4 linked regions of the Homo sapiens genome follow. The protein of the gene in region 1 interacts with the protein of each later gene in a biochemical or structural test. Each region holds a gene or a part of one and is shown in the gene's direction. Other genes may lie near its edges. The genes, in order: RAB7A, CHM, PLEKHM1 and VPS39.

The links.
Region 2: the proteins of RAB7A (region 1) and CHM are reported together in a solved structure, tested with the Homo sapiens proteins (2 studies listed by BioGRID, with this or other methods).
Region 3: the proteins of RAB7A (region 1) and PLEKHM1 form a complex in vitro, tested with the Homo sapiens proteins (one study listed by BioGRID).
Region 4: the proteins of RAB7A (region 1) and VPS39 form a complex in vitro, tested with the Homo sapiens proteins (one study listed by BioGRID).

The regions. Positions count from the first base shown.
Region 1 is NC_000003.12:128,806,156-128,813,182, forward strand, and holds part of RAB7A (ras-related protein Rab-7a), read left to right. Parts: intron 1-216; coding exon 217-435; intron 436-1,387; coding exon 1,388-1,516; intron 1,517-7,027.
Region 2 is NC_000023.11:85,862,559-85,869,585, reverse strand, and holds part of CHM (rab proteins geranylgeranyltransferase component A 1), read left to right. Parts: intron 1-4,764; coding exon 4,765-4,956; 3' UTR 4,957-7,027. UniProt on the Homo sapiens protein: Substrate-binding subunit of the Rab geranylgeranyltransferase (GGTase) complex.
Region 3 is NC_000017.11:45,452,708-45,459,734, reverse strand, and holds part of PLEKHM1 (pleckstrin homology domain-containing family M member 1), read left to right. Parts: intron 1-1,295; coding exon 1,296-1,566; intron 1,567-4,854; exon of another isoform or gene 4,855-4,904; coding exon of another isoform or gene 4,905-4,920; intron 4,921-5,462; coding exon 5,463-6,380; coding exon of another isoform or gene 6,381-6,445; exon of another isoform or gene 6,446-6,801; intron 6,802-7,027. UniProt on the Homo sapiens protein: Acts as a multivalent adapter protein that regulates Rab7-dependent and HOPS complex-dependent fusion events in the endolysosomal system and couples autophagic and the endocytic trafficking pathways.
Region 4 is NC_000015.10:42,198,296-42,205,322, reverse strand, and holds part of VPS39 (vam6/Vps39-like protein), read left to right. Parts: intron 1-5,361; coding exon 5,362-5,427; intron 5,428-5,656; exon of another isoform or gene 5,657-5,753; intron 5,754-7,027. UniProt on the Homo sapiens protein: Regulator of TGF-beta/activin signaling, inhibiting SMAD3- and activating SMAD2-dependent transcription.

The DNA.
Region 1 (7,027 bases):
TGTCACTCGCTTATAGACAGACACATACTTAATCACAATATTTGTGAGGATTGTTTCAGATACTCTGGTGCTGAAATTTGCTTCCTGAAGTCTGGTGTCATTTGTCTTTGTGGGTGGCCCCACAATCTAGCCTATTTCTTCTGGCACCCCTTGCATACATGCTCCTGGTGCTCTGCCTAGCATTCTCCCAAGGAATGAATGTTTTGTCTCTCACAGATATGGGACACAGCAGGACAGGAACGGTTCCAGTCTCTCGGTGTGGCCTTCTACAGAGGTGCAGACTGCTGCGTTCTGGTATTTGATGTGACTGCCCCCAACACATTCAAAACCCTAGATAGCTGGAGAGATGAGTTTCTCATCCAGGCCAGTCCCCGAGATCCTGAAAACTTCCCATTTGTTGTGTTGGGAAACAAGATTGACCTCGAAAACAGACAAGTAAGTACCAACGATGATAGATATTGTCACAGACACCTGCTCCCCAGGGGCCTTGTGAATTTGGAGGGTTCTCTGCTAAGCTCACATGGCTCTAGGAGGTGCTGGTGGGAGTCTTCATTACCATATGCCAGCCCTTCAGGCCAACTGCCTTTAAGGACCGGGACCCAGGTGACCTGGGTTAAGTCCCCATCCTGCCCCCAGCTGGCTGTGACTTTGGGCCATTGTCTTGGCTGTCTCAGCTTCACTTCCCTTTCTGCACTTTGAAGGAGGGAATTCGGTTTTGTCATTCTCAGTAGTGCCCTCCCAGTACCTCCAGGCCATGCCTGGATCTCCATGTGTGCAGAATATTGCTTTGGGCTTTGAGTAAAATTGCTGTACTGTAGTTTCAAATACCATTTCTGTTGGAAACATAGACTCTTTGATTAATTACAACTAGGTTTATTTCTGACCACAGATCTTTTCTTAAGTGACTTAGTCCTTATCTCTTGGCTGAAAATGGGCTAGGGGTTGGGGAAGGAATGAGAATGTGTGAGTGGCATAGGTGACATCACACTAGCAGTAATGGTGAAGGGACTATAAACCTTAAGACCAAGCTGCTGGGCATTTCCTGTCCTGGGATCTCTGAGGTCCCAGTAAACACTCTTCATTTCTTCCCGGACTGGCTTCTTACTCCATTCACAAATGGCTTTTAAGTATAACTGAGGGTCAGAAGGTATGAGCTGTAGACCGAGACAGGCTTTGAGCTCTCTAGCTGAATCCTAGCTATCCTGAGCATAGCTAGCAGGACAAGTTTGGACGGGTCTGCAGGTCTCCTCCAACACCCTCTTTCCCCATGTCTGTGTCCTCACCTGTACTACCTGTAGACGAGGGGCCATGACACTTCCTGGGGAGGATGGAGTCAGTGCTGGCTGCTTCTGTCATGAGCCTATGTGCACCCTGCTTCTTCTTTCAGGTGGCCACAAAGCGGGCACAGGCCTGGTGCTACAGCAAAAACAACATTCCCTACTTTGAGACCAGTGCCAAGGAGGCCATCAACGTGGAGCAGGCGTTCCAGACGATTGCACGGAATGCACTTAAGCAGGTGGGTCTCCCACAGCTGACCAGCCCACTCTGGTGATGCCTGACCACTGACCCAGTCCCTGCCTGGCCTCCTGCCCTTAATCTTCTTCCCTAACCCACTCTTTTCTGTATAGCCAGAATACCCTATGTGTTCATCTGGGAAGGTTATGACATGTTCTGCTTAAGCTTCCAGAAATCCCACTTTGGGGGGAATAATATAAAAGATGCAGAGGCTGTGAAGTCTGAGGCTGCCCTTCTTTTACTAGGCTTGTTCTTATTTTCTTTGCTGTGATTAGGAGATCAGGTCACTGGGAGACCCCGAACAGATTGCTGCTTCTATTTAAGGAGGAAATAAACTTGAATATGAATCCCAGCTCTGCTGCGTACCAATCGTTATATCTAGTTTGGGCTTAAAAAAAAATTATGGCCGGGCACTGTGGCTCATGCCTGTAATCCTAGCACTTTGGGAGGCCAAGGCGGGCTGATCACTTGAGGTCAGGAGTTCGAGACCAGCCTGGCCAACATGGTGAAACCCCCTCTCCACTAAAAAATACAAAAAAATTAGCCAGACCTGGTGGTGGTCGCCAGTAATCCCAGCTACTCGGGAGGCTGAGGCAGGAGAATTGCTTGAACCCAGGCGGCAGAGGTTGCAGTGAGCCAAGATCGTGCCACTGTACTCCATCCTGGGTGACAGAGTGGGACTCTGTCTAAAAAAAATTAAAAATTAAAATAAAAAAAATTATATCTGAACTTCTACCCCCTCACCTGAAAAATGGGAATACCTGCTTTTGCAGGGTGATTATGAAGATTAAATGAGACAGACTCTTCCAGCTCTCACATACTGACTGGTAACTTTTTTCCTTAGGAACAGTTAAGTAAACAACACAAAGAAGGAAGAAGATGTAGGAAAACTATTCAAGGAATATAATACCTAGAATTTCTTATTTACTGTTTCTGTGATTAGATACAACCACTCATGCGAGTTGAAAGTCTGTTTTGATGTACAGCTCTGTTAGGGGCAGTGGTGATTAAGGCAGGTCACGAGGCCTCATCAGACAGTGTCTGGGGGTGGTCAGAGGTGTGGCAGGTTTGGGAGGATGCATAGAACACTTGAAGCACATGGTGGCTGTGAAGGGCAAGGCAGATTCTGCTGACTCCAGGAAGCCGGCTGAATGAAGGTAATGGCTTTCAGCAGGACAAAGAGTTGTTTGTAATGGTTGCTCCAAGGACCAGGGAAATTCTGGCATGGGTGGGGTCTGCACTAAGTGTTCCAGAATGAAAGGGACAGATCTACTCAATGAGGAAATTGTTCCACCCAGAATGCCAGGAGAGCCCTCAAGTGGTAAGGAGCAGACCAAGATGCAGACTTGGCCACGCTTACCCCCAAATAATAATGTTTGTGTTTTTCTTAATGTTCATATAAGGGAATGGAAATCCAAATATGTGTAGGAAAGTGTTTCCCACCTGTTCCCTGTTGCCTGGCATCACTGTCTGAGTTTTTCTCTTCCATCACTACTGTCCCTGTTGTCTTTATGCTTTTATTTTTAGAGCTAGCCCTTAAGAAGTTAGATTGTTAAATCGGAGGGTGTATCTTATTGTAAGTCAGGGTGCCAGGTTGCTTTCCCCAAGGGGAATAACATTTCAGCAATGTGGGCTTGCTTTCTTCTACCTCCTTGCCAGCAAGCAATAGGTGTCACCTGTCACTGCTGACATTGCCGATCTTTGGGTGTGTAAATTGCCACCATCGTGACTACTGGTCCCTCTGAGTTCCCCTCCCTGGGGCTTAGCCATTTGGATTTTCTCTGCTGCACACAGCCGGCACACAGCACATGGTTGGGCCTCTCTCAGTTCTCATGAGCTGTTGGTGAATTGAAGTTAACTCTACTTGCATCTTAAGTGACTTTTCCAACTCTGTGGTCTTTTTAAGTCCTTTGAACATAGGGAAAAAGTAATTTTTTATTTGGTTATGTCATTTTAAGTTTCTATGTTTCCTGTGTCTACCTCAGATTTTTCTGTAATTCAGCTGGAATTTGTTTTGGCTTATGGCAGAAAAGAGAGACTTGCCTTTCCTCTCAAGAGAGCTCAGCCAGTTGTTTGAAATCATTCAGCTATGTTACACAAGCCGTTTCCCTCCCTGAATAGACCGTGGCCTGTGCTAAATGCTCGTATGTGCTGGGATCTGTTTCTGGTCTCTCCAGTCTGTTCTGGTGATGTCCATGCCATGTTCCCTTATCTGGACTGTGTTGATTTGACTGCCTGATGAGGCAAGTTTCCTCTTGCCACAGTCTTTTTTTTTTTTTTTTTTTTTTTTTTTTTTGAGACGGAGTCTTGCTCTGTTCCCCAGGCTGGAATGCAATGGCGTGATCTCGGCTCACTGCAACCTCCGCCTCCCAGGTTCAAGCGGTTCTCCTGCCTCAGCCTCCTGAGTAGCTGGGATTACAGGCATCCGCCACCATGCCCAGCTAATTTTGGTAATTTTTTAGTAAAGATAGGGTTTCACCATGTTGGCCAGGCTGGTCTGGAACTCACATTGTGAACCGCCCGCCTCAGCCTCCCAAAGTGCTGGGGTTACAGGCATGAGCCACCGCACCCGGCCTGCCACATTTCTTTTTTAATAATTTTGTTTCCACCATTTTCCTCTCTTACCTTCCACACCCCAAATAAAACTCTGTTGAGATTTTGATTGGAATTTTTTTCTTCAAGCCCACTGTTTTTTCCTCATTGATTGCAGTTTTGTTGTGGCTGTTGCATTAGTCTGCTCAGGCTGCGTTAACAAAACCCCACAGCCTGGGAGGGTCCAACAACAGACATTTTGTTTTCTCACAGTTCTGGAGGCTGGAAGTCCATGAGCAAGGTGCTGGCACATGTTTCTGGTGAGGGTGCTTTTCTGGGCTATCTTCTCACTGTGTCCCTCCCATGCCCTTTCTGCTGTGTGCACAGAGAGAGGACACATGAGCAAGGTGTCTCTGGTGTCACCTCTTCTTATAAGGACACGAATTCTCAGATCAGGTCCCCATCCTGCAACCTCATTTAACCTTCATTCCTTCCTTACTCCAAATACAGCCACCTGAAGGGTTAGTGCTTCAACACAGGAATTTTGGAGGAACACAAACATTCTGCCCAGCCGAGTGCGGTGGCTCATGCCTGTAATCCCAGCACTTCGGGAGGCTGAGGCGGGTGGATCACCTTAGGTCAGGAGTTCAAGACCAGCCTGGCCAACATTGTGAAACCCCATCTCTACTAAAAATACAAAAAATTAGCTGGCGTGGTGGTGGGCACCTGTAATCCCAGCTACTTAGGATGCTGAGGCAGGAGAATTGCTTGAACCTGGGAGGTGGAGGTTGCAGTGAGCCGAGATTGCACCATTGCACTCCAGCCTGGGCAACAAGAGCGAAACTCCATCTCAAAAAAAAAAACAAAACATTCCACCCATGATACTATTTTAGGTCTTGTTTCTGTTCCTTCAGTAAGATTGATTGATTCTTTTTTTTTTTAGAGACAGGGTCTTGCTCTGTCAGTCAGGCTGATACGCAGTGGTGCAATCATCACTCGCTATAACCTCCAACTTCTGGGCTCCAGCAGTCTTCCCACCATAGCCTCCTAAGTAGGTAGGACTACAGGCACACCCATGCTATAATTGATTTATAATATGATCCTTTGCCTTTCACAGTAAACATATTCCTAGGTACTGGTGGGAATATAAAATGTCACTATTTGTAATAGCCAAAAAGTAAGAACAACTCAAATGTCCATCAACTGGTAAGTGAATAAACAGGGCAGCTTATCCATGCATTCTAATATTATTCAGCTATAAGAAGGAATGAAGTAGTGACACATGCTGCCACATGGGTGCTAAGTGAAGGAAGCCAGTTGCAAAAAGACCATATGTTGTACGATTCCATTTCAGTGAAATGTCCAGCCCGGATGCAGTGGCTCATGCCTAAAATCACAGCACTTTGGGAGGCTGAGGCCGGAGGATCACTTGAAACCAGGAGTTTGAGACCATCTTGGGCAACATAGCAAGGCCTCATCTCTACTAAAAATTAAAAATTAGCTAGGTGTGGTGGCATGAGCTTATAGTTCCAGCTACTTGGGAGGCTGAGACTGGAGGATTGTGTGAGCCCAGGAGTTAGAGGCTGCAGTGAGCTGTGATCATGCCATTGCACTCCAGCCTGGGCGACAGAGCAAGACTCTGCCTCAAAAAAAAAAAAAGAAAGAAATCACAGTCCACTAGAAGAAATGGGGAAAATTAAAATAAATAAATAATGTTTAAAAATTAAGTGTCCAGAATAATAGGCAACTCTATTGAGACAGAAAGTAGATGAGTGGTTGCTGGGTCCAGGATGGTATAGAATGGGGGTGGGAAGGAACTACTAATGGGCATAGGGTTTTTTGGGGGGTGATGAGAGTATTTTAAACTTAATGTTGATGGCTGCCCAACTTTCTGAATATACTAAAAACCATTGAATTGTACACTTCATGGCATGTGAGTTAAAACCCAGCAAAGCTATTAGGAGTGCAATGGCACCATCTTGGCTCACTGCAACCTTGACCTCCCGGGTTCAAGCAATTCTCCTGCCTCAGCCTCCTGAGTAGCTGGGATTATAGGTGCTTGTCACCATGCCTGGCTAATTTCTGTATTTTTAGTAGAGACGGGGTTTCACCATGTTCGCCAGGCTGGTCTTGAACTCCTGACTTCAGGTGGTCGACCTGCTTCAGCCTCCCAAAGTGCTGGGATTACAGGCGTGAGCCACCATGCTCAGCCAAAGCTGTTATTTTTTTAAGTATGTATTCCTAGATGTTTTATACTTTTATAGTTATTGTGAATGGAATGATTTTTTTCCTAGATAACTTTTAATGAATAGAAACAGTTCCTGCTTTATCTCCAAATTCTAGAACAGTCACTGGCACACAAGTGCTCAGTGTTTAAGTGACATTGTTTTCCTGCACCCAAAAGTAGAATGCTGCTCCTCATTGGAAGCATGTTACTTTAGCAAAGTGCCACTAAAATGACCATAGTCCATGTGCTCTGATCACTTGTCACAGATGGTGATAAAATTCATTCACAGCTTCCTTTCTAGGCCTGCAGCATTTGGGAGACAAAACTCTGCTAAACCTTTGGAAGAAAAAAGAGACCAGAGGCCATTGGTCCCGAAAAGTGGATGGAAGATAGGGAGGTAGAAGGAATGTTACAGGCTGAGAGGGCAGCTCACACTCAGCTCCAGCCACTTCACCTCGTGCACACACTGGCTGAGGGTTGCCAGATGTTTGAGAAAAGCTAGAAATCCAGACCATTGTTAACCATTGGCAACTATAGGGAACATACAGAAAGCATCTGAACTGGATGTGGTAGAGCTCCCAGATCATGATCTGATTGAGAATGTCCATGAACTTCTGTCCTGATTGCTCAGTGCAGACTGCTGCTTCTTCTGGCAAGACTCCTCTCTTCACATTGACCTGGAGTTGTCACAAAATCTGTTTTTCTCTTGCTACTCCCCTGAGCATGGCACCTTCTGCCAGAGCGCTCCCTTAA
Region 2 (7,027 bases), on another chromosome or scaffold:
AGGGCAGATGGGCTATAGGTGGGAGTTTCATAAGCAGGTAGAACACAAGAAAGAGTGGTGTGACAACCTGCAACTGGTGCTAATCTTAGGAGGCAGGTGGTGCATGACAAGATATATGGAAGTATGTGGTGTGGGATCCAGCCACAGAGACTGGAGTTTAGGGTAAAAGCTATTCTATGGGGAGGAGGCAAAAGGGAGACAAGGTGTCAAACACAGAGGAACTAGCATAGAAGAAGTAAAAGAATTAGTAGTAATAATAATTATTATATTTATACTTAATATTTGTATTAAATGTTACTGACATTCTATTTTATGCCAAGGCACTAAGGATCCAGAGTTGACTAAAAGTATTTGTCATCCTGGAGGAATCACTGTCAGGTAAAGGAGAAAAGCATGTAAACAAATGACAGTGTAGTGTGGCGTATGTACTAATATATCCAAAGTCTAGAAATAACAGAAAGGAGAAATGAGCCCAATCTAGGAGTCAGAGAACCTTACGGAGAGGGGTATAACAGAAGAGTAGCAATTCTCCATCTAAATCAAAGACAGTAGAATTGAAACATTCTGGATGTGAAGAATAACATTGGTACCAGTCCAGGATGTAAAAGATAAATATCATGGTGTATTGTTTCATACAAATAAACAGGTATTAGTAAATCAAGAAGTCTGAGAGATGGAGGCTAGATGAAATGGTATATGATAAGATCAGAGAAGGTAGGCCTGAAGGGTTTTATTTTCTATAGTAGGAATCTTGGATTTTATCCTATTGGTGATGGGGAGTCATTGAAGAATTTTAAGCCAAAAATGGAATAAACAGAATTTTATTTTCCATTGACCCATCTGAGGATGGCATGGAGATGGATTATATGGGGGAACTCTAGAGGCAAGGAGACCAGTCCAATTCTGAGGCTATTGTAGTTGTCTAGTTGAAAGATGGTGCATGTCTGGGCTATGTCAGTGGGGAAGGAACAGATGAAGTTAAGAGATAGAAGATAAAATTGATAGAATTTGATGATTGTTTGCATGCCAAAGATAAAAGGGAGGGAGAACTTTTACAGATAGTAAAAACAGAGATGTAAGACAAAAAGACCATTAGGGGAACGGAAGTATGAGGTAATGGCTTTGTCTGATCTAGGTCCTGCTTCTACAGGGGTTGCGTGTCTCTAGCAAAGGAGTATGGTGAGTCTCCGGGATGGAGAGCAAAGACAGGCATCTGTAATGTTTAATTTCCAAATAGCCATAATAAAAAATGCAGTTAGCTATAGTTACCATGCTGTACATTAGATCCCCAGAACTTATAGCTGAAAGTTCATACCCTTAAACCAACAGCTCTACACTCCCCAGCCCCTGGCAACCACCCTCAACTTTTTTAGATTCTACATATAAGTGAGATCATGTGATATTTGTCTTTCTGTGCTTGGCTTATTTCACTTAGCATAATGTCCTCCAGGTTCATTTATCTTGTCATAAATGACAGGATTCTTCAATTCAAATTTGACAAGAGAGCAGATTTTAAGTATTCTTACTACAAACACACACACACACACACACACACACACACACACAGTGGTAACTATTAGTGGTGATGGACGTGTTAACTTAATTGTGGTAATCATTACACAGTGTATATCAAGTGACCTTGTACACCTTAAATATATATACTTTTTGTCAATTAAGTATTTAAAAACTTAAATTGTCTATAGTAATTGGCATGTCCAAGAACATACCCTTGAAGGTTTTTTATTCTGTTACCCTGTCATACTAATAAGTTCAGCTTAAATCTTGACATTTTTACTTATGTTATTATTAGTAATAATGAAAATAGCTACCATATATGTCGGCTTAATCTCTGATATTTTATAGATAAGGAAGCCAAAGCTCGGAAATTGAGAAAGCATTCCCCAAATCACATAACTGCTAAATCGTAGAGCCAGTATTTTTACTGAGGCTATCTTTTCAAAACCCATGAGCTTAAACAAGTGCTATAGTCCTTAAAGTCCAGGGAATGGAAATTCTATCAAAAAGCAAATAGTTGAACAAACAGTGAAGAGTTTTCTTCATTTGAACAGTGACTTGTTAAAATTACTATATGCTAAATTAGACTATACCAGTATCACATGTGGGCTTGTATTAGTCTGTCCTCACACTGCTATAAAGATACCACCTGAGACTGTAATTTATAAACAAAAGAGGTTTAATTGACTGACAGTTCCTCATAGCTGGGGAGGCCTAAGGAAATGTAAAATCAGGGTGGAAGGCAAAGGGGAAGCAAGGCATGTCTTACATGGCGGCAGGAGAGCAAAGAAAGCAAAGAGGGAACTGCCAAACACTTTTAAACCATCAGATCTTGTGAGAAGTCACTATCACGAGGACAGCATGGGGAAAAGTGCCCCCATAATCCATTCATCTCCCACCAGTCCCTCCCTAATACTTGTGGATTACAATTGCAAATGAGATTTGGGTAGGGACATAGAGCCAAACCATATCATTCTGCCCCGACCCTTCCCAAATCTCATGTCCTTTTCACATTTCAAAACCAATCATCCCTTCCCAACAGCCCTCCAAAGTCTTAAAACTCATTCCAGCATTAACTCAAAAGTCCACGTCCAAAGTCTCATCTGAGACAAGTCAAGTCCCTTCTGCCTATGAACCTGTAAAATCAAAAGCAAGTTAGTTACTTCCAAGATACGATGGGGTATAGGCATTGGGTAAATGTCCCCATTCCAAATGGGAGAAATTGGACAAAACAAAGGGGCCATAGGCCCCATGCAAGTCCAAAACCCAGCCGGGCAGTCATTAAATCTTAAAGCTCCAAAATCTCCTTTGACTCCATGTCTCACATCCAGGCCATGCTGATACAAGGGCTAGGCTCCCACAGCCTTGGGCAGTTCCAACCCTGTGGCTCTGCAGGGGATAGGCACTGTGCCTGCTTTCATGGGCTGGCATTGAGTGCCTGTGACTTTTCCAGGTGCATGGTGCAGGCTGTCAGTGGAGCTACCATTCTGGGGTCTAGAGGACAGTGGCCCTCTTCTTACAGCTCCACTAAACAGTTCCCTAGTGGTGACTCTTTGTGGGGGCTCCAAGCCCACATTTCCCTTCAGCACTGCCCTAGCAGAGGTTCTCCATGAGGGCTCTACCCCTGCAGCAGACTTCTGCCTGGCCATCTAGGCGTTTCCTAACATCCTCTGAAATCTATGCAGAAGCTCCCAAACCTCACCTCTTGTCTTTTGTGCACCCTCAGGCCCAACATCACGTGGAAGCTGGCAACGCTCGGGGCTTGCACCCTCTGAAGCAACAGCCCAAGCTGTACCTTTATTCCTTTTAGCCATGGCTGGAGCTGGAGCAGCTGGGATGTAGGGTACCATGTTCCAGGGCTGCACAGAGCAGTGGGGCCCACCCAGCCCACTAAACCATTTTTCCTCCTAGGGAAGATCTCTGACATGCCCTGGAGACATTTTCCCCATTGTCTTGTCTATTGACATTTGGCTCATCATTGCTCATGCAAATTGCTATAGCCAGCTTGAATTCCTCCCCAGAAAATGGTTTTTTCTTTTCTCCCACATGGTCAGACTGCAAATTTTCCAAACCTTTATGCTCTGCTTCCCTTTTAAACATAAGTTCCAATGTGAAGGCATCTCTTTGTGAACACACATGACTGAGTGCTTTCAGAATCAGCTGGGTCACCTCTTGAATGCTTTGCTGCTTAGAAATTTTTTCTGCCACATACCCTAAATCATCTTTCTCAAGTTCAAAGTTTCACAGATCTCTAGGGCAGGGAGAAAATGCTACTAGTCTCTTTGCTAAAGCATAGCAAGAGTCACCTTTGCTCCAGTTCCCAATAAGTTCCTCATCTCCATCTGAGGCCACCTCAGCCTGGACATCATTGTTCATATCACTATCAGCATTTTGGCCAAAACCATTCAACAAGTCTCTAGAAAGTTCCAAATTTTCCCACATTTACCTCTCTTCTTCTGAGCCCTCCAAACTGTTCTAACCTCTGCCTGTTACCCAATTCCATAGTCACTTCCACATTTTCAGGTTATCTTTTAGCAGTACCCCACTCCTGGTACCAATTCTCAATGCTAGTGCCTCTTACACTGCCATAAAGATACTACCTGAGACTAGGTAATTTGTAAACAAAAAAGGTTTAACTCACAAGGCCACATGGCTGGGGAGGCCTCAGGAAAGTTACAATCATAGCAGAGGGTGAAGGGGAAGCAAGGCACATCTCACATGGTGGCAGGAGAAAGAGAAAAGGGGGAACTGCTAAATACTTTTAAACCATCAGATATTCTGAGAACTCACTATCACAAGAACAACATGGGAACAGCCGCCCCCATAATCTAGTCACCCCCTAACACGTGGGGATAACAATTTGAGATGAGATTTGGGTGAGGACTCAGAACCAAACCATATCAAGGCTCTATAAGAAATCATATAAACAATATTAAGGAAATTGTATTTCTATTGATATATAGAATGAATGTATTTCAGTTCTCAACAATCTGAACACTTGATAATGAACCTGATGAGGTACTGCCATCCTTGAAGAGTGGACCTCAATACATGTATAGAATTAAAGGGAGAAGTCATAGAATTCTGAAAACAGACTTACGGAAGTTCATGTATTCTGATTAAGTACTGTAGCCTGTTTAAGCAAATTTTTAAGGATAAAACACTTATTTTTTTTTAGTTAATGCCAGAAATGCACACACATTTTAAACCGATTTCCAAAAACGATTTTATCTTTTCTTCCTTGGCCAGGCTGAAACACTTTTCCAGGAAATCTGCCCCAATGAAGATTTCTGTCCCCCTCCACCAAATCCTGAAGACATTATCCTTGATGGAGACAGTTTACAGCCAGAGGCTTCAGAATCCAGTGCCATACCAGAGGCTAACTCGGAGACTTTCAAGGAAAGCACAAACCTTGGAAACCTAGAGGAGTCCTCTGAATAATGGATATACACCAAACTGGATACCCAACTTTGGAAATTCTGACTGGTCTCAGAGTCTACTTGATAGAAGGACTGTTTGAGAAATGTTAGAAAGCAGCAGCAATTATAAGGCAAAATAGGTAATAGAAATCCAAAAGGGGATTTTCCTTATAGAGGACATTCCAAGAACACACAACACTTATAAAGCACATTGACTTGCTCATTTTAAATACCAAACTTGTGTGACTAGCAGATGAAAATTATAAATCAATTGATTCTCAGGAATGTAACTGTGGATATGAAAGTGATCCTATGCATTGTTAATAATTCCATGGTCTTAGGACAATTTTGCTTACCACTTTGGATCTTTGTTTGAAAGCCACATTTTCAGAACCAGCTCATGTATTTTCTTTGGTTATTTGAATTTTATTTTCTTTATGGACAAGAGCATCATAACATAATGATAAAAACATATAGAAAAACTAAAGTATCATGATCTAGATAGAAGCCTGTATTTGGAATACAGGTTTGTTTTGCTTTCTATGTTGAGAAGCATTGAAAATGCTAATATAAAGGTGTTTAGACATTTTTACGAATAAGTCAGTAGTGTTTTTTAGTATCAGTAGTGATATTTGTTTGTAAATTATTTACATATTGGGAAAGGTCAATAATGAAGAAATGAAAGAATGGAAGGAAAGGTGTGGATAGGCTCATTGGTATTTGAATATTCTGTCTGTCAAGTAACTAGAGTATTAGGCTAATTGTCTACAGACCTAATTTAATCCTGGCTGTCCTACTGATGATATTTGGTAAATTGTTTAACTTCTGAGCCTACGTTTCTCCATATATAAAGTGGAAATAGTATTACTATGCCTACTATATGAGAATGGTTATGAAGACAATGCAATGCCATGTTTAGAATCGGTTTGCCAGAAGAAAATTGTTTTAGAATTTTCCCATTGACTTGATGAATCTCAAAAGTCTCACGCAGGAAATAATTGCTTGCTGTCAGTCAACTTCCAAACAAAATAGATCACAGTGTTTTTATTGCATTAAGCTTTTTAAATGAAAATTTCTTTTTTAAAGTAGTATTTTATAGTCTTACAGACCAGTAAAAATAGTAACAAGTAGAATTGTGGTTTTGAAATATTACTAAGGAAAACACTCTATAAATTGTTTTATTCCTTTTCTGGTAGGTAAACCTGCAACCACCAAGGACTCCAAATTGTGTATGACAGTTGGTAAGCCCTAATATACACTACATAAAAACGTTAGGGCTGCCTGTAATCCCAGCACTTTGGGAAGCTGAGGTGGGTAGATCACTTGAGGTCAGGAGTTCGAGACCAGCCTGGCCAACATGGCGAAACCCTGTCTCTACTAAAAATACAAAATTTTAGCTGGGTGTTATGGTGGGCACCTGTAATCCCAGCTACTTTGAAGATGAGGTAGCAGACTCACTTGAACCAGGGAGGCGGAGGTTGCAGTGAGCCAAGATTTTGCCACTGCACTCCAGCCTGGGTGACAGAGCAAGACTCTGTCTCACAAAAAAAAAAAAAGGGGGCTGTACATAGGCAGCAAACTAAGCTGCAGTGATGTTGCCTATATTTAAATTTTCTCAAATGGCCAAGCTCTGATGGTCTACTTTATTTGAGCAATAGTTGAGACTTATAATTGCCTATAAATAAACAAACAAATGAACTATTTGTTTTTTTTTCTCACAACATCTGGCCTATATTGTCTGTCAGGAAGCCATGGCTCCAATGTAAAGTACATAGTTCTTACATACTTCAACTGCAGCTGGTCCCTGACCTCACCAGGTTTCAGAGATGTTCTTAAAGGAAGCCAGCTGTGGCAGGTCACAGATTCATGGGAAATGGAAAGAACCAAGGAATATAGCTCTTGCCTCACCTTTCTACCCACTGCAGATATAGTTCAAGCCAGAGTAATGGAAGAACTTAACTTACTAGCCTCTCAGGCTGCTCCTATCCCTACCTCCCAGTGTACAGCCCCTCCCCATCTCTTTAGTCCCCTTTCCCTCACTTCCCCTTTTATAATGTCACACAAATCAGGGACAGTAGGATCACATTATAACC
Region 3 (7,027 bases), on another chromosome or scaffold:
GGGAATATAAAATGGTGCGGCCACTTTGGAAAACAGCTTGGTAGTTCCTCAAGAAGGGAAACATAGAGTTACACATGACCCAGCAAGTCTACTCCTAAGTATATACCCAAGACAATGAAACATGTCTACACAAAAACTTGTGTATAAGTGATCATAGCAGCACTATTCATAATTGACAAAAAGTAGAAACAACCCAAATGTCCATCAGCCGAGGAGTGGATAAGCCAAATGTGGTGGATCGAGACAATGGAATATTATTTGGCAATAAAAAGGAATGAACACTTAAACATGCTTATATAACATGGATGCACCTGGAAAACCTCCCACTAAGAGAAAGAAGCAGGCACAAAAGGTCACGTGTCGTATGGTTCCATCTATATGAGATGTCCAGAACAGGCAGGTGTGTAGGGACTGAAAGTAGGTAAGTAGGTGCCTAGAGCTGAGAGTGGCCAGGGGAAATGGGGATGACGGCTAATGGGTACGGGGTTTCCTTTTTGGGTGAGGAAAATTTGCTAAACTTAGATGGTGGTGACGATTGCCCAACTCTGACTAAGCCAAAATGTTTGAATTGGACACTTTATTTATTTATTTTTTTAGAGATGGGGTCTCATTCTGTTGCCTAGGCTGCAACCAGGCTGGAGGGCAGTGGCGTGATCACGGCTCACTGCAGCCTTGACCTCCCTGGCTCAAGCGATTCTCCCGCTTCAGCCTCCTCAGTAGCTGAGACTACAGGTGTGTGCCATCACACCCAGCTAGTTATTTTTTGTAGAGATGGGTTCTCACTGTGTTGCCCAGGTTGGTCTCAAACTCCTGGGCTCAGGTGATCCTCTCACCTCAGCCTCCCAAAGTGCTGGGATTACAGGTGTGAGCCACCATGGCTGGCCGAATTACATACTTTAAGTGGGTTAATTTTATGATATAAGAGCCATATCTAGATAAAGACTTAAAAAAAAAAAAAACTTCAGGCTGGGCACAGTGACTCACACCTGTAATCCCAACACTTTGGGAGGCCGAGGTGGGTGGCTCACCTGAAGTCAGGAGTTCTAGACCAGCCTGGCCAACATGGTGAAACCCCGCCTCTACTAAAAATACAAAAATTAGCTGGGCATGGTGGTGGGCGCCTGTAATCCCAGCTACTCAGGAGACTGGGGCAGGAGAATCGCTTGAACCCAGGAGTCAGAGGTTGCAGTGAGCCGAGGTTGCGCGATTGCACTCCAGCCTGGGCAACAGAGCGAGACTCCGTCTCAAAACAAAAAAACTTTAAAACAAACAACTGTTGTCTTCTTTCCCAACAGAAAAACAAGAGCTGGATCTCAGAGGATGACTTCTACCGGCCTTCCCGGGAGCAACCCCTGGAGAGTGCTTCAGACCACCCAATAGCTTCTTACAGGGGGACTCCAGGGTCAAGGCCTGGTCTCCACAGGCATTTTTCTCAAGAACCAAGAAAAAACTGCTCCCTGGGGGCGTTAGACCAAGCGTGTGTACCTTCCCCAGGAAGAAGGCAAGCCCAGGCAGCCCCATCCCAGGGGCATAAGAGCTTCCGGGTGGTACACCGGAGACAGATGGGTAGGTTACCAGGAGGGTCCCGGGTGGGTCCCATCTGCAGGGACCAGGCCTTTCAGAAGGCAGCTGTGAAGTTCTGTTTTCCATTGCTAAAGGGGTAGTGTGTTCCCACAAGTGTTATAAAACCTCATTCCAGAATGCCATCATAATCATGTTCATTCAGGGAAGCATTTCAGGAAAAGTAGTATATTGTCTCAAAACTGCCTACAGAGGACAAAAATACTGTTTCACCAGTCAAATAGGAAAATATTTTCCCTGAAAACTATGCAATTTATGATTATAGAAAACTCTTGATTCCACCTGTAGCTCAGAGCACATCCGGCCCCATGAAGCCCCAGGTGTTTTAAATGGTCCTTCCAAACGTGTTTACCCTCAGTAGTTGGTTTATGTAACAGCTCTGGGTGGCTTGATCAAATCTGCTATTTGTTTTGTTTGTTTGTTTGTTTTGAGATGGAGTCTCCCTTTGTTGCCCAGGCTGGAGTGCAGTGGCATGATCTCTGCTCACTGCAACCTCAGCCTCCTGGGTTCAAGCAATTCTCCTGTCTCAGCCTCCCAAATAGCTGGGATTACAGGTACCTGCCACCACACCTGGCTAATTTTTTTTTTTTTTTGAGGTGGAGTTTCCCTTTTGTTGCCCAGGCTGGAGTGCAATCATGTGATCTCAGCTCACCACAACCTCCGCCTCCCGTGTTCAAGCAATTCTTCTGCTTTAGCCACCCGAGTAGTTGGGATTACAGGCATGAGCCACCATGCCTGGCTCATTTTGTATTAGTAGAGACGGGGTTTCTCGAAATTGGTTAGGCTGGTCTCCAACTCCCGACCTCCGGTGATCCACCCCGCCTCGGCCTCCTAAAGTGCTGGGATTACAGGCATGAGCCACTGCGCCTGGCCAATTTTTGCATTTTTAATAAAGATGGTGTTTTGCTATGTTGGCCAGGCTGGAGGATCTGCTATTTGTTTAATGTCCTCCAGTGCTTCTTTTTTTTTTTTTTTTTTTTTCTGAGGCAGAGTCTTGCTCTGTCACCCAGGCTGGAGTACAGTGGTATAATCTCAGCTCACTGCAGCCTTTGCCTCCCAGCTCAAGTGCCTCAGTCTCTCCAGGAGCTGGGATTACAGACATGCACTGCCACACCCAGGTGATTCTTGTATTTCCAGTGGACATAGGATTTTGCCATGTTGGCCACACTGGTCTGAACTCTTGGCCTCATGTGATCCACCCACCTTGGCCTCCAAAAGTGCTGGGATTACAGGTGTGAGCCACTATGCCCGACCTCCCCAGTGCTTTTTACAGCAAGGTCAGCTTGATCTCCACACACTGAAATTCCAGAAAGCCTTAAATAACCATAACCAAATTTTTCAGTAACCTTCATGATGGGTTTCCTCTTCAAAACAAACAAAAAAAGTACGCTCTAGAATTGGTCTCTTTCTCTCCTCATTTTCTGTCTGCAGTGACCCAGCAGAGAATCCTGCCCAGCTCAGGGGGCCTTGCTGTGGGTAGCCCTGGCATGGGTTGTGTGGGTAGAGCCCGGTCTCCGGGCTGGCTTCTGTTAGGTTTGTCTGTTGGCCCGTGTGATGGCTGTGGTCTCTAACCTGCCAGCGAAGCTGTGCTTCAGGTCTAGGCCATCAGGTTTCTTGAGGGGCAGGGAACCCCCATAGAATAGTGTGAAATCTCCAAGGCTATTCCAGGCTGGCGGAGAGAGAATTGTGTGTCCTTTGGACACCCTGGTTGTTGTCACACCCCAGGCAGCAGGGAGCTGTGGGCAACATGTGATACATAGGCACTCACCTGCTCATTCATTCAGCAAATATTATTGAGGCTCTGTGATGTGCCAGGCACTGTTCTAAGTGCTGGAGACATAGCAGGCAGCAAAGCAGTGTCCCTGTCTTCATGGGATTTAGATTCTAGTAGAGGAGACGGGAAATAAAATTAACAAGTAAGCATAGTGTGTGGTCAGGTGGTCATAAGTGCTATGGAGGACAGTAAATCTCTACCTGTCTACAGAGGTAGAGAGTGGACCACTGCATATAGGATGGCCAGAAAAGCCCTCACCAATAAGGGGATGTTTGAGGAGATGCAAGGGGAGAGAGGGAAGGAGTCATGAGGCAATGTACGTGTTTCAAGCAAGGAGAACAAATGCAAAGACCCTGCGCTGGGGCTGCGCTTGACACATCCAGGGACAGTGGAGACCAGAGTGGCAGGAGAGAGGAGATGGGGGCGTGGCAGTGAGCGATGAGGTCAATCTGACGAGGCCTGTGGGCCACTGGAAGCACTTTGGCTTCAGCTAAGGGAGATGGCCGCCACTGTGGAGTTTTGGGGCAGAGGGACATGCTCTGACTTCCCTTTAAATGGGTCATCATGGCTCCTACGCTGAGGGACTACAGGGGAGAAGGGGAGAAAGACCAGTTAGGAGGTTGTCATCACAAGCCAGGCCAGAGATGACAGTGGGTGGGGTGCAGCTGGGGAGAGGCGGGGATTCCGGATGTGTGGAAGGCAGAGCCAATGGGATTTGCTGATGTAGGCTGCGAAAGAAAGAAAACCTGGGGTAACACCAAGATTTTTAGCCCAGGCATCTGGAAGGATGAATTTTGCTATTTGGTGAGATGAGGACCATTCAGGAGGAAGCAGGCTGGCAGCAGGAATTCATCCTGGACATGTCAGCTGAGATCCTAGTGGACATGTATGGCACAGGTGGATATATGAATGTGGATTTCAAGAACAAGGTCCAGGCTGGCGATAAAAATTGGGAGCTAAAGCCTGAGAGCAGGTAGAGTGGTGAGAAAGTGGCATCTACAGAGAGGAGACAAGGACCCAGGACTGACATCTGGGCACTCTAACGTGAGAGGCCACAGGGAGGACCGAGCCAGAGAGATAGAAGGGTGGGGGCGAGGGCTGAGGAGTGGCCTTGGGGTTTGGCAACGAGGAGGGCATTGACCATCTCAGAAACAGTGTCAGTAGAATGGGGGGAGAGAAGCCTACTTGGAGCAGGTTCGAGAAGGAATGGGAGCAGGGAAACTAGAGACCAAGAGGTTTTTTGTTTTGTTGAGACGGAGTCTCACTCCTCTGTCACCCAGGCTGAAGTGCAGTGGAGTGACCTCAGCTCACTGCAATCCCCTGCCTTCCCGGTTCAAGCCATTCTCCTGCCTCAGCCTCCCTAGTAGCTGGGATTACAGGTGCTCACCACACCTGGCTAATTTTTGTATTTTTAGTAGAGACGGGGTTTCACCGTGTTCACCAAGCTGGTCTCAAACTCCTGACCTCAAGTGATCCACCCACCTCAGCCTCCCGAAGTGCTGGGATTACAGGCATGAGCCACCGCTTCCGGCCAAGATGAACAGTTTTGATGCCTCTTCAAACAGGTTTTCTGTAAAGGGGCCTGAGAAATATGGTGGTCATTAGGGAAGTGCATGGAGACGAGAGGTGTTTCTAAAGATGGGAGAAATGACAGCGTGCATGTGTGCCGATGGGAGTCACCCCATAGAGAAGGAAGAAAGCAGTGACAGAGGAGAGGACTGCTCCTTGTCCTTGAGTAGTTGGCCAAGGGAGAGACCTCCTGCACAAATGGAGGGTTTGGCCTCACGCAGAAAGAAGCACACTTGGTTCATCCCTGGCAGCAGGAGGGAAGGCGTGGGTGTAGGGAACAGGGCGTGTGGAGGGGATCTTTTGGGTGCTCTTATTTTCTCAGTGAAATACAGGACGCAAGAGCAGCAGTGGACGGTGAGAATGGGGATGTTCCCATCCAGCTTTCAGGGTCCCATGTGATAGTGCCCCGTGGCTGGCCTGTGTTCTGGGGACAGTCACTGGCCACATGCACTGCAGGGCATCAGGCAGCAGAGGCTGCCTTGGGCAGGACAGAGACAGGCCCGCCAACTAATGTGCCCCTTTTTGCCTCTGCCTCCAGGACTGTCCAACCCATTCCGGGGTCTCATGAAGCTGGGCACCGTGGAGCGGCGGGGGGCAATGGGCATCTGGAAGGAGCTCTTCTGCGAGCTCTCCCCGCTGGAGTTCCGCCTCTACCTGAGCAACGAGGAGCACACCTGTGTGGAGAACTGCTCGCTGCTTCGCTGTGAGTCTGTGGGGCCAGCCCATAGTGATGGGCGCTTTGAGCTGGTCTTCTCTGGCAAGAAGCTGGCCCTGCGCGCCTCCTCCCAGGACGAAGCTGAGGACTGGCTGGACCGGGTGCGGGAGGCCCTGCAGAAGGTCCGGCCTCAGCAGGAGGATGAGTGGGTGAACGTGCAGTACCCAGACCAGCCTGAGGAACCCCCCGAGGCGCCCCAGGGCTGCCTCTCTCCCTCAGACCTGCTCTCGGAGCCCGCGGCCCTCCAGGGCACACAGTTTGACTGGTCGTCCGCCCAGGTTCCAGAGCCAGATGCCATCAAGGAGTCCCTGCTGTACTTGTACATGGACAGGACCTGGATGCCCTATATATTTTCTCTGTCCTTGGAGGCTCTGAAATGTTTCCGCATCAGGAACAATGAGAAGATGCTGAGTGACAGCCACGGCGTGGAGACCATCCGGGACATCCTGCCAGACACCAGCCTTGGGGGCCCATCCTTCTTCAAAATCATCACGGCCAAGGCTGTCCTGAAGCTGCAGGCCGGAAACGCCGAGGAAGCCGCCCTGTGGAGGGATCTGGTCCGCAAAGTCCTGGCATCCTACTTGGAGACAGCCGAGGAGGCGGTGACCCTGGGCGGGAGCCTGGATGAAAACTGTCAGGAGGTGCTGAAATTTGCCACCCGGGAGAATGGCTTCCTGCTGCAGTACCTGGTGGCTATCCCCATGGAGAAAGGCCTTGACTCCCAAGGCTGCTTCTGCGCAGGTGCCGATTTGCTCTGCTGCCACCCCCAGCCTGCCAGCCTCACTCCACCTCCTGCTGGTTCCTGATTTAGGCTCCCCACCCTTCTGCCTCCCCGCAAATGCCCCCATCCTTCCCCTAGGGATGAGGCCACAGATCAGGCTTGCCCTACAGCTTCTGCTCCTCCCCAGCCCCGGCTGGGGCCAGTGCCCTGCTCATAGGCAGTGGGCCCTGCTCACCCGTCCCTCTCCTGCCACCTCCCACTGATGGGCGGCAGGCTGGCTACTCACTGCGCTGCTCAGGGAGTCCCAGCCTGCTTCATTTTCTTCTTGCTCTACCGTCCTGTTCTTTCAGAGCAGGGGCATGGTTTCCTTCCAAATATTTCTGCTGCTTTTATAAGTGTACACCCTTTTTTTTAATTATAAAAATGGGCTCGTGCTATTCAGTGCTGTCCAATAGAACTTTCTGTGATGATGAAAATGTCCTAGATCTGTGTGTCCAGTGCCATAGCTGCGAGCCATGTAGTGCTACCAGGTGCTTAAAGTGTGGCTAGTGTGGTTAAGCAACTGAATTTTCTATTTAAATTCATTTGCATTTAAAGGGGACACACGGGGCTCTTGGCTGCTGTGTTGAATGCTGGATATATTGTTCCACAACTTGGTTTTTTCCTA
Region 4 (7,027 bases), on another chromosome or scaffold:
AATGTGCTGTTTTCTTAGCCTTATCTTCTAATCATGGGTCACCATCTACTGTTATTTTATATATTTAATTATTATTGCCTCTCTCACTCCACATTAGAATATAAGTTCCCTCAGGGCAGTATCTTTGTTTTCTGCATTGCTATATCTGCAGTACCTAAAACATTTCCTGACTCAATGGGTATTCATTAAATATATATTTAATGAATAATGTTAATATGAATAGTAATAGCTTGCAGTTGTTAAATGCTAATCTGTATTAGGCTTTTATAAAATAAGACTCCATTTTACAGAAGAAAGACCTAAGGCTTAGAAAATTTAAGAAATTTTTCCAAGGTCACATGTCCTGTAAATCATGTCTGCTTCTAGAGCCTGGTTCTCAAACTTGAATGTATATTCAAAGCCTGTAAAAAATGCAGACTTCACATGTATATATGAGTATCTGTATGTCTATATATACATACATACCTATATTTTCCAGAGAAACAATGGAAAGATAAGTCAAAAATTACTAAAATGATGCCCATAGCAGAAGGGAGAAGAGAGGATAAAATGGACAATGATAGAAACTAGACTTTTCGTCGTTTTAGCTTTGGAACTACATGAATGTTTCATAAAAACAAATAAAATTTAATTTAATTTTATTTTATTTTATTTTATTTCATTATTATTTTTTGAGACTGAGTCTCGCTCTGTCGCCCAGGCTGAAGTGCAGTGGTGCAATCTCAGCTCACTGCAACCTCTGCCTCCCAGGTACAAGCCACTGTCGTGCCTCAGCCTCCCGAGTAGTTAGGATTACTGCCACCCACCACCATACCTGGCTTATTTTTGTAGTTTTAGTAGAGACGGGGTTTCGTCATGTTGGCCAGGCTGGTCTCAAACGCCTGACCTGAGGTGATCCGCCCACCTCGGCCTCCCAAAGTGCTGGGATTACAGGCGTGAGCCACTTTGCCCAGCCAACAAGATTAAATTTTAAAATGTAAATTTCAGGGTACCACTTCAAAGCCATTGAATCTGAATCTCCATGTGCAGGGCCCAGGAATGTGCATTTTTAATAAGTCCAGGTGATTCTAATGCAGCTAATTGGGGGCTTATGCCCAGATGAGAAGTACTGTTATTTGCCATGTTACCCAACGAAGGGAAGTGACTACTATCTTACTTATCTTTGTGGTCCCTGCAGTGGCCAGCATTGGGCCAGAAATGGAATTTATTACATGAAGTTGGACTGCATTGCACTGTTGGAAGGAGCTCCATTAGGGTAATTATGAGCAATAGGGCCTAGCCCTCCTTCTCAGGAGGAATTAAGTCCAACCTTGTGGCTCAGGGTTAGGCCGTCAGGAGTTTTTTAGGGCTGATACTGCTTTGCTTATGTGTGCGTTTTGTGTTTGCTTAGTATGTCTCACTTTCTGTTGTGTGTTACTGTATTGAGTCTCAGAAGGCACTGTCCATCCCATGCTGCGCGTGCTCTGCAGGCTTGTCATCCTCTGTGTTGTGCATGCACAGCTTTGTTAAATAACGTGTCCTAGAGAGTGGAGGACCCAACATGGGACAGGTCCTCTGGCTAATGGCACATGTAATCAATCAGGTTGATTTAAAAGTTTACAGAGAATTTAATCCATCGGATTGATTCCCTTTTATGACCAGTAGAATAGACATTTTATTTTTTTAATTAATTTTTTTTTTGGAGGCAGAATTTCACACTTGTCACCCAGGCTGGAGTGCAATGGCGCACAATCTCCACTCACTGCAACCTCCGCCGCCAGTGTTCAAGTGGTTCTCCTGTCTCAGCCTCCCTAGTACCTGGGATTACAGGTGCTCACCAGCACACCTGGCTAATTTTTTTTTTTTTTTTGAGACAGAGTCCTGCCCCGTCACCCAGGCTGGAGTGCAGTGGTACGATCTCAGCTCACTGCAGCCTCTCCCTCCGGGGTTCATGCAGTTCTCTTGCCTCAGTCTCCTGAGTAGCTGGGATTACAGGCACACACACCACCATGCCTGGCTAATTTTTTTTGTATTTTTAGTAGAGATGGGTTTCCACTGTGTTGGCCAGACTGGTCTTGAACTCCTGACCTCAGGTGATCTGCCCGCCTTGGCCTTCCAAAGTGCTGGGATTACAGGCATGAGCCAACCACACTCGGCCTAATTTTTATATTTTTTAGTAGAGACGGGGTTTCACCATGTTGGCCAGGCTAGTCTCAAACTCCTGACCTCCAGTGATTCGCCCACTTCGGCCTCCGTGCCCGGCCCCTAGACATTTGACTTTTTAAAATGTTTTGTCATGTCTTAGTTTGGGTTCACAAGAAAAAAAAAAAGTAAATTAAAAAATCTATTGGCAAGAAACATTTCAATAAAAATGGAAAATAGACTCTTGAATGTCATGTTTAGGAATTTGACTTCATATTTTGGTAGTGTAGCTTCACAGGATTTTTTAAGCCCCAGTGTGACAGCATCAGAGATCTGCTCTAAGATAACTGACAGCAAATGCGAGAGAATGCATGGAGTGAATGAGACCAGTTGAAGGTGTCACAGGGGTCCCCAGAGAGACTCTATAGGAGGAGGCTGTCATGAGGTACCATTACAGGTAGAATTGATAGACCCTGGCCGACTTGGGAGGAAGCTGAGGCTATTAAAAAAGATAAAGAAAAGCAGGAACTGGCAGGGATTTGGGGGACAGAGTGGAGAGAGAAGGATGGGGAAGATGATGAACATTATGTTGGCCTTTTGTTTTGGTTGTAGATTTTTATGTATGTTATGAGTGGATTTTTAAAAAATTTCCACTTCATTTTATTTATATCTGAAATATCAGTGGGTGGCCTAAAAATCAACTTTAATATTGCTAAATTGCTTGATATCATGATATCTATAAAGTTCTAAATATAGTATCTTTTACAAAACAAATATTGCAAAATGAATTCTTTTATTTTTTCATGTTCTGCTGCAGCATAAATCTCCAGCCTTCATTAGAGCTGCTGTTATTTCTGATTTCAACATTTTTTTTGTGTGTGACCTGCCTTTCCTTTAAGACCCCAAATCAAAGAAAATAGAATCACTCTGTTTTTCTGGATGACTAAGAACATCATCCTGGAGAAATACTATTGATCCTTTGGATAAGGAATGTAGGTGCTGACCTGTTTTTATAAATATAACTACTGCCATTCAGACAACCTTTGGCTGACACCCATTTTTTTTGACATGGGTGCCTTAGTAAGTACATCACAGCATGTGGTTGGGAATCAAGACAAATTGGGGTTGGGATCCCAACTCTGCTGCTTGCCACATGTGTGACTCTGGAAAAGTTATATATTCCCTAGGCCTCAACTTCCTCATCTATAAAATGGGGATTTGAAAAAAGGACTTACTTCAAGGGATAGTTGTGAGGATTAGTGAAATAACAGATGCGTTTAGCATTTCCTGGAACACAATACATGCTCAATAAAAGTTATCTATTTGTACCATTATCCAAGATTTTATTTTACAGAGGTCAAGAATCAAGAGAGTTTATGAAAGGAATGAGTGACCTTTATGTTATCAAAAAGCTAAGGAAGTATCTGTACATGCTTACCTTCCTTGAATGATGTAATATGGGTCTGTCAGGGTAATTATTTAAACTCTTTCTGAGCCTCTTTTTACCTAGACCAGTGCCTCCCAAAATGTGGTCCTTGAACCACCAGCATCAGCATCATCTGGGAAGTTGTTAGAAATGAAAATTCCTGGGCCTACTTTTAAACCTACTAAATCAGATGCTCCGGGGTAGAGCCTAGCATTCTGTATTTTAACAAACTCTCAAATAATTGTGATACACTAAAGTTTAAGAACCACTAGCCTAGACCATCTTTTAAAATGTACAATTTGGCTGGGCACAGTCGCTCACCCCTGTAATCCCAACACTTTGGGAAGCTGAAGGGGCATTGCTTGCGGTCAAGAGTTGGAGACCAGATTGGGCAATATTGTGAGCCCTCATCTCTATAAACATTTTTTAAAAAATAGCTGAACGTGGTGGTGCATGCCTGTATTTCTCGCCACTCAGGAGGCTGAGGTGGGAGGATCACTTGAGCTAGGGAGGTGGAGGCTGCAATGAGCCATGATCACACCACTGCTCTCTAGCCTGGGCAACAGAGTAGAACCCTATCTTAAAAAAATAAAAGTTAAAAAAAAGTGTACAATTAAATGGTTTTTAGTACATTCACAGAGTTATGCAACTATCAGCACAATAAATTTTAGAACATATTCATCACTTTCAGAAGAAACTCAGTACCCATTAGTATTTACTTTCTATTTTCCCCCAAGCCCACCAGCCCTGGGCAACCGCTAATCTTTCTACCTCTGTGGATTTGCCTACTCTGGACATTTCATATAAATGGAATCACGTGGCCTTTTGTCTGGCTTCCTTCAGTTAGCATCATGTTTTTAGGTTCATCTGTGTTGTAGCATATATCCATACTTCCTTTCTTTTCATTGTTAGCTAATATTCCGTTATATAGACATGCCACATTTTGTTTATCCGTTCATCAGTTGGTGGACATTTGGTTTGTTTCCATCTTTTAGCTATTACAGATAATACTGCTGTGAACATTTGTGTACAAGTTTTTGTGTAGAATATGTTTTCATTTCTGTTGGGTGTGTAACCAGGAGTGGAATTGCTGGGTCCCAGGGTAACTCTGTTTAGCCTTTTGAGGAGCTGCTAGACTTTTCCAAAGTGGCTCTCCCATTTTACATTCCTGCCAGCAGTGTATGAGGATTCTAATTTCTTTATATTCTCATCAACACTTGTTATTAAATATTTTCTACTAGACTATCTTTTGAGATAATGAATTCTGTAAGCTTATTATGTTACGTCATTTATTTTCCTGAAAGTAAAAGCATTTAAAGGATGCCTCTTAGCTATTATTGCTGAGGTTGGATACCTGGTTTCACATTTGTACTTCCATTTTGTGATTTTATAAACTTTCATCATATTCTTTTTAGCAGAATTTAAAAATATATATCTGAAGATATATATCTTAATAAAAGTATATATAACAAAAAATAAAAATCATAATAATTTAATCTTAAAAATACAAAGCCCTTCTATCTTTTTTATTAGTTTAACATTAAAACAATTGAGCCAGGACATTTTTATCCTCTGATATGTCTAGCCTAGTAATTATTCAATAAATGTGTTTTTAAATGGTTGATTTTCAAACATGAGTATAAACATTTCTTAGCTTTGCAAAACACCTCCTATCAAAAGCAACTCATTTTCTTGACACATTGATTTCTGATTACAAGCCCCAGCTAAAAAAATAGGGTTATACTCAAGCTGATTGACCTTTCTCAAAGCTGGTTTTTTTTTGTTTTTGTTTTTGTTTTGTTTTGTTTTTCCAGAGGAATGGCTTCTTGTGGGAACCAAACAAGGACATCTTCTTCTCTATAGGATTCGGAAGGACGTTGGTAAGTGCACATTGCTCATGCAAAAAAATAAGTTTTAATAGTCAGCTAGTATACAACTGTGAAATCAGTTATTCCTGGACCATTAAAAGAGAGATTGAAGGTTAGAGGGAGCACGGTGGGAAAATGGGGAGAAGACTTGAGAATGCCTAGGGTTTTTCTCCTCCAAATTGTATTGCCCTACCTGCATTTGGGAGGTGAGGATGAATTGCTGGTTTACTTATTACTGAATTACTTATTACTGGTAGTGAGTCTCTAAGAAAAGAGGAGGTGGTTGTTTTCCTCCTCTTTTCTTTGAGACTCACTACCAATAATAAGAAATACTACTAATGGGCATAAGCTTCCTGTATATATGGTGTGGTGGTAGGAAAAAAAATTAGGCAACATCGATTTAAAATATCTTGTTGGCTTATGAGGGGTAGAACAAGAAGAGAGGACCAGGGTTTGCCTTCATGTGCACTTCCCCCTGGCTGCGTGACCGTGAGCAAGTTCTTTCCAACATCAGTTTTCTATAAACTCTCTGCCCCACAAAGTTGTTGGGGTGGATGCAATAATAGGCTCGAAGAAACTGTGAAAACTAAAGTTCTAATCAAATGTGACTGTCAGTAATGTAGAGTAATAACTAAAGTATTTGAAATGTATTCTGTTAAAGAGTGTTTTTTATTGGGGCAGAAAGTACCTCACTGCCCTTCCTTGTTTTCGTTTCTGTGCTCTCTTTATGGAGAATAGATGTGTTTAGGTATTATGCCCTGGAGCCACTCTACAGAAATCTGCAGTTAATTTCATACCCTTCAATATAATATATATTTCTCTGGTAAATAGCTTAAGAGATAGCTTAAGATAAATAGAGCTCTCTTGTGGAACCTGGAGCAAGGGTAACACTGGGGGAAAAAGCACCTTACTAGTGCACTCGGGAAAGAGAAGATATCCTGGTCAGTTTCTGCAGCAGGGTAAGAAAAGAAACCAGAGAACAAAATAGATAATTTATTTCATTTCTAAGTTTTTCAACTGTCCTCTAAATCAGGGTCAGCAAACTTGTTCTGAAAAGGTCCAAAGAATAAATATTTTAGGCTTTGCAGTGTTGTTACTACTTAACTCTGCCTTTGTAACATGAAAGCAGCTGTAGGCAATATGTAATGAATAGGTATGGCTATGTTCCAATAAAACTTTATTTACAAAAACATGCAAAGGCCTCAGTTAGGCCCTGGAGCAGTACATTGTTGATCTTTGTTTTAATGTTTTAAATTTTTAATTCTCATGGCCTGTGAAGTGGCTCATGCCTATAATCCCAGCACTTTGGGAGACTGAAGTAGGAGGAATGATTGAGGCCAGGAGTTCGAGGCCAGCCTGGGCAACATGGCAACACCCTGTCTACAAAAAATTAGCTGGATGTGGTGGCACGTGCTTATAATTCCAGCTGCTCTGGAGGCTGAGGTGAGAGGATCGCTTGAGCCCAGGAGGTTGAGGCTGCAGTGAGCTATGATCACACCATTGCTCTCCAGCCTCAGCAACAGACTTTGTCTCAAAAAAAAATTTCTTTTTTTAGTTCTCGGAGCCAAAATATTTGCGTTCTGTGATATTTGCCTGGTCTATAATTTTAAAA